Regions from separate parts of the Homo sapiens genome. Here region 1 is linked to region 2. The links come from fine-mapping of genetic effects on gene expression. A gene starts in region 2. The other region holds a variant in brackets. All regions are shown on one strand. Distances are between the middles of the regions. Region 1 overlaps CFAP77 (cilia and flagella associated protein 77). Region 2 holds the start of CFAP77 (cilia and flagella associated protein 77).

What was found. PIP is the estimated chance that this variant, and not a neighbour inherited with it, causes the effect.
Region 1: its variant is fine-mapped to the expression of CFAP77 in nasal epithelium (TOPMed, PIP above 0.99). The same link has a PIP of 0.9 or more in lung.

What each region holds. Positions count from the first base shown.
Region 1 is chr9:132,571,704-132,574,604 of GRCh38, forward strand. It overlaps CFAP77 (cilia and flagella associated protein 77), which reads left to right. Exons shown (of 6, transcript NM_001282957.2): 6 at 685-1,616. The coding sequence ends at 807. Among named protein-coding and RNA genes, the nearest start is that of BARHL1, 9.5 kb to the right of the region's middle. The variant C/A (reference allele first, on the strand shown) is at 1,230.
Region 2 is chr9:132,409,037-132,411,937 of GRCh38, forward strand. CFAP77 (cilia and flagella associated protein 77) reads left to right here and starts at 1,175. Exons shown (of 6, transcript NM_001282957.2): 1 at 1,175-1,430. The coding sequence starts at 1,236. It overlaps LOC105376304 (a long non-coding RNA gene), which reads left to right and starts at 1,605. Exons shown (of 3, transcript XR_930405.2): 1 at 1,605-2,695. RefSeq lists a silencer at 2,283-2,332.

The DNA of each region.
Region 1 (2,901 bases), 160 kb after region 2:
CTGTTAATGGGATGGATTTTGTAGCACTTGGAGGTGATGTAACAGACACAGTGGACACCAGGAGGCGAGGCGGGGTCTTCACCCACCACCATTTCTTGAGAAGAAAGGGCAGGCTGAGATACCGATTGCACAAAATCTTAACTGAAGAGGCTCCCACTCTTTGAATCTGTCTCCCTTGCATTTTTTTTTTTTTTTTCTGATTTATTCTTGAGCTCTGGTTCTGGTGATATTGAAGTTCAGCTCTTGACTCCTGTGGTGGCTGCCACCAGAGAGGAGGGAAGTGATCTAATTCCCAGCAAGGGAGTGCAGACAGGGTCAGGAGGTCCCCCTTGGAGAGGGTGGCTTGTTTGGGGTTTTTAATGGTGGAAAAGTAGTGCATGAAGGACACTGGCTACTAGGTCCCATTGCGTGGTCGTCTGGTCATGGCCTGGTGATTTTTGTTCTGCCTGTATCTTCCCCAGCAAGGAGCTGGACAGAAGGACGAACAGTTCCCCCAGGTAGCCCCTGCTCTCTGCCTCGTGGCTCAGCACCAGGAGGCTCACAGCACTTGCTGTGACTTCCTCCCTCTTACAGCTATTTTTATCATTATTCTAAGATTGAAGCAGGGGGCAGGCGAGGGGAGCAACTGGAATGAGCTACACTGAAGTCTCCCCTCACCCACCCACTCTTCCCTTCTATCCACAGGTGGGCCGCCACCTTGATACGTTCCCCACGGAGGCCGATCGCCAGAGAGCATTAAAAGCCCACCGGGAAGAGTGTGCCGTGCGCCAGGGGACCCTGCGGATGGGCAACTACACCCACCCCTAGCCCCTCCCTCCCCTGCCACAAGAAGCCATCTTGACATAGTGGAAAATTCCCAGAAGGACTCCCTATCTTGCCCCAACCCTGACATTCCCCCATTTTTATGCAGGTTCTGCTTCAAGGAGCTCAGATTCAAGTCTTAGGCTAATTGTTTTTGGTAAAAGTCCCCCCTTTTAGGTTAGCCAACATTAGTCTCCACTTAGCCCCAGTGACCCTCTACCTGGAGCCTCCTCCTCTCCTCCTCCTTCTCCTCCTAGGGCAGGCTCACCCTGCCTCTTCTCAAGCCCTCACCTGCCAAGACAAGCCCAAATTACAAGACAATTTTTTAGACTCCAGGCTAAGGGTCGATTCCATGGCTCTGCCCATTAAGTGTTAAGAACGACCTGTGTATTTGCTGCAGAAAGCATGACAGTGACGTGCTTTGAAAG[C/A]CCTCATTTTCTATTCCAAACATGAGTTTTAATTGCTCTTTTTGGGATGCCTGATGTCTCATCACGGCAGTATTATCTCTCTGGGACCTCTGACAGCAGGAAGAGCCAATGGTTCATTACTCGAGCCTGCCCCCGCCTCCTCAGTGCTGGGGCCCCGTCAATCAAGCAGGCCAAGTTGGACTCCTCCCCCAGGACTGACTTTGGAAGGTCAACCCACTCTGGAAAAAGCCTTCCAGGCCAGCGGGTAGACTGCTGAACACAGGCTGCTGAGCTTCTCAGCCGAATTCCTGGACACTTCCTCACTCGGTCTTTCCGTGTGTTCTTTGGATTCTCTCTGAAAATTTTATGCTGATCTATTTTAAATTAAAAATGCTATTTGTCATCCTCCTTTTGTGTCTCCATTTGAAAACCAGTGAGCAAATCAGCCTTAGAGACATCAAATGAGGGTGCTGCCACATAGAGACCTCTCAAGGTAAGCTAACCTCCAAAACATTCCAGCCACACCTTTTTTGAGGGAGGCAAATTTTCAAGTTTTAAATATCATTTCTAATCTAAGGGTTTTTTTTGTTTGTTTGCTTGTTTGTTTTTGAGACAGAGTCTCACTCTGTTGCCAGGCTGGAGTGCAGGGGCGCAATCTCAACTCACTGCAACCTCTGCCTCCTGGGTTCAAGCGATTCTCCTGCCTCAGCCTCCCGAGTTGCTGGGACTACAGGTGCGCACCACCACACCCAGCTAATTTTTGTATTTTTAGTAGAGATGGGGTTTCACCATGTTGGCCAGGATGGTCTTGATCTCTTGACCTCATGATCTGCCCCCCTCGGCTTCCCAAAGTGCTGGGATTACAGGCATGAGCCACCGCGCCCAGCCAAGGATTTCTTTCTTTTTTTTTTTTTTTTTAAACAGAGTCTTGCTCTGCCGCCCAGGCTGGAGTGCAGTGGTGCAATCTCGGCTCACTGCAAGCTCCACCTCCTGGGTTCACACCATTCTCCTGCCTCAGCCTCCTGAGTAGCTGGGACTACAGGTGCCCGCCACAACGCCCGGCTAATTTTTAAAAAATATTTTTAGCAGAGACGGGGTTTCACCATGTTAGCCAGGATGGTCTCGATCTCCTGACCTTGTGATCCACCCACCTCAGCCTCCCGAAGTGCTGGGATTACAGGCGCATGCCACCATGCCCAGCTAATTTTTGTATTTTTAGTAGAGATGGGGTTTCACCGTGTTGGGCAGGCTGGTCTCAAACTCCTGACTTCAGGTGATCCACCCGCCTCAGCCTCCCAAAGTGCTTGAATAACAGGCATGAGCCACCACGCCCAGCCCCCAGACTCATTTATCCAACTGCCCACTCAGCATCTCCCCTTGGGTGTCTGGCATTCATTGTTAACCACCATAGCCAAGGCAGACACTTGACTTTTTTTCTGCCAAACTTACTTCTCCCTCCGTCTTTCCCATCTCATAAGTAAGACCACCATCTACCCAGCTGTGGAAGCCAAAAGTCTTCAATACTCATTTTCCTTCATCCCTCCAATCTCCCAAGCAGGCAGAGTCTGAGTGGGCTGGCCCTGAGCAGGCGGTAGCACGCCATACCGCAAAAGAGTGCGAAGCACAGCTCTGCCCAGCAATTTCTGTGTGATCTTGAGCAACAGTCCTATCCTCTCTATGCCTCATCTCAGAG
Region 2 (2,901 bases):
AGGGGATTTTTAAAAATGCAGCATCTGGCCTGGTGAGGTGGCTCATGTCATTATCAGAGCAAGACTCCGTCTCTTAAAAAAAAAAAAAAAAGGAGAGCCTCAGATGCCATTTCCAGATATTCTGATTTAGTGAGTCTGGGGTGAGTCCTGTGAATCTTCGTTTTTCTTTTTTTGGCACATGGTCTCATTCTGTCATCCAGACTGGAATGTAGTTGCCGAAACACGGCTCATTGTAGTCTCAACCTCCTCAAGTGATCCTCCTGCCTCAGCCTCCCCCATAGCTGGGACCACAGGTGTGTGCCAGCACACCTGGGTAATTTTTTTAATTTTTGGTAGAGATGAGACCTCACCATGTTGCCCATGCTGGTCTCAAACTCCTGGGCTCAGGCCATCCTCCCTCCTAGGCTTCCCAAAGCAATGGGATTACATGGGTGAGCAGCCAAGCCCAGCCCAAATCTGTATTTTTCAATTTCCCTTCATTCTGTTGCTTAAATTTGGGAACCATTGATGTAATCCAACTCTAGCGTTTCCTTGTCACCCATCTCACAGGAAAAAAAGAAAAAAAGCCCTTAGGATCCAAGAGGGTGACTTGCCCGAGTCCTCCCAGTGGGTCAGCATCAGCATCAGGCTTGGAATGCATTTAGTGCTCTGTCTCAGGTGTGTGTGTGGCGCAAAGAGCAGAGGTGGGGAGGGGTTGTGAGTGGAATGGGGGTGAGCAGAGGATGGAGTCTTCGACTTGGAAGACAAATGTAAATGACCCTCTATGAGCCACGCCGCTTTGAACGCAACCCACTGGAGATTCTCGGTTCTCCTGTATCGATTCAGGAAAACTCCAAACAAGTCCACACTGGTAGCCACCAAGAGTTTCTTGAAAGAAAAGTACAAGCCGAGCCGGGCTCTGTTGGCGTCCCGTCGCCAAGGAGACGGGCCGTTGCATTCGTCCTCCAGGGGTGGTCTTGGTTTTCTTTCCTCTCCCAGTCTGCAACGCGGGGCCCAGGAGACGCCCTGAGGATCCCGCGGGGCTCCTGCATTGCTCCGGGGCTCTTTGCGATGAGGGGCCGGCGCGAGCGGGGCGCGCCTGGCTCCGGAGGGGTCCTGGCATCTGAGTTTCCCCCTCAGGATCCCGGTGGTGCGGCCCGGGCCGCCCGGCAGGCCCTTCGGAGCTCCAGGCTGTGCCCGACGTGGGGAAGCGCGCCCAAACCAGCCCGCGGGCCGGCTCCCCGGCGACCTCAAGGATGCCAGAGGCCAGGAGCTCCGGCCCGGACCTCACGCGATGGAGGAAGCAGCAGCAGCCTGTGCGCCGCACGGTCAGCCAGGTCTGCCCGCCCCCGCGGCGGCCCCTGACCGTGGCGGACATCCGTTCCGGCATGGAGAACGAGCGGCTGGGGGTCGTGCGGGACTCCATGTTTCAGAACCCTCTCATCGTCAAGGTGAGCACCCCACGCCCACCGCGCTTTCGCTGTCGCCGGCTCCGGGCACCTGCGCCGCCGGGGGTCCCCACCCGCAGCGCCCTGGCCCCGCGGCCCGGGGTCCGAGCGCAGCGTGGGAAGCTCCAGCTCTGGTCCAGACAGGCCTGGACCCCCATGCAGGTCGCGTCGCCTCTCTCAGCCTCGGTTTCCCCATCCTCACAGTGGGATGATAATGGCACCACTAAAGGGACTGATTGGGAAGATTGAATAGGGTAATTTCTGCGGGACCTCGGGACAGCGCCTGACATGGGGTAAGGCTGCAATGGGTGCTGCTGTGGTTTCCCACAGAGTGAACCCACAGGGTGACAGATAGGTCGCACACGCCCAGTCTAAGTCGTGGCTGCCAGCCCTCCCAGGGTAAAGGCCGCCTCTCCGGTTCCGCTGCACGCCTGGGGTACGTCTATGCAGCGGTGGCTCCGTGTCTGTCCTGGAAGCATCACGTCGAATGTTCATTTCCGTTCGATCATACTAATTTCTTACCCAAATTACAACCCTAAGAGAAAAAAAGCATAATCTTTGGCCTAGGAGGCTCCGCAGACAAGAATGAGGGAGCTGCGGTTTCGGGCTGGATCACTTTCCCTTCCATTACACTTCCCTCCTCCCCACCTTTAGCCTCGCTTCCCGCTGATGGGAAACCAACACTGCTGTGGCGGCCACACCTTCCCGGGGGCCACTGGAGAAGTCAGGCTGAGGCTTGGGGGTCAGGGAGCAAGCCTCGAGGCGAATTTATCTTGCGCCGCTGGAGGGCAGTGCGCCTTTAAAAATGCGCCCCGCGTCCCAGGTGCGGGAGTGGAAGGCGCAGGTGGTAACCGTGGATTCAACAACAATTATTTGTGTGACCGCCAGGCGCTGAGTAGAGCCCAGAGGTGGTGGTGGCGGTTTGTTTTTGTTTTGGGGAAAAGGGAACCCGTGCTAGAATTAACTGAGTTAATTGGCTCCTGGCAAAACATTGACTCCCTCCTCTTGCCTTCCCTAAACTCGGTCCTGAGAGGAGGAAGGATACTGCCTAGGCGCAGGCTGCACCTGGGGGAGGCTGGCTTCCCACACTCGTGCCTTTCCATCGAATAGGCTCCTTTCTTAGGCCTCTCAAAGTGGAACAAGGTCCTTCACTTACTTCTACGTGAGAAGAGCCACTCTGAGTGGACAGGCAGGACAGGCAGGTGGGGCCCATTATTCTTGGATGAAGGAGAGAATCACGTCCGCCACCTCTGACTACCTGCATTAAGGTTAGGTCGTTGCTTTTGTTCAAGTAGTTAGTAGTGAGCCAACTTCTTCCTACTGAAGTGTAAAGTGAGGGCGTATGGAGTTATTCTCCATGGTGAGTTAGTGTGTGGTGCCCACGCTGAGCAATATGTACACACACACACACACACACACACACACACATACATGCATATGCATTTGTGTATGCACCCATATAACATACCGTTTA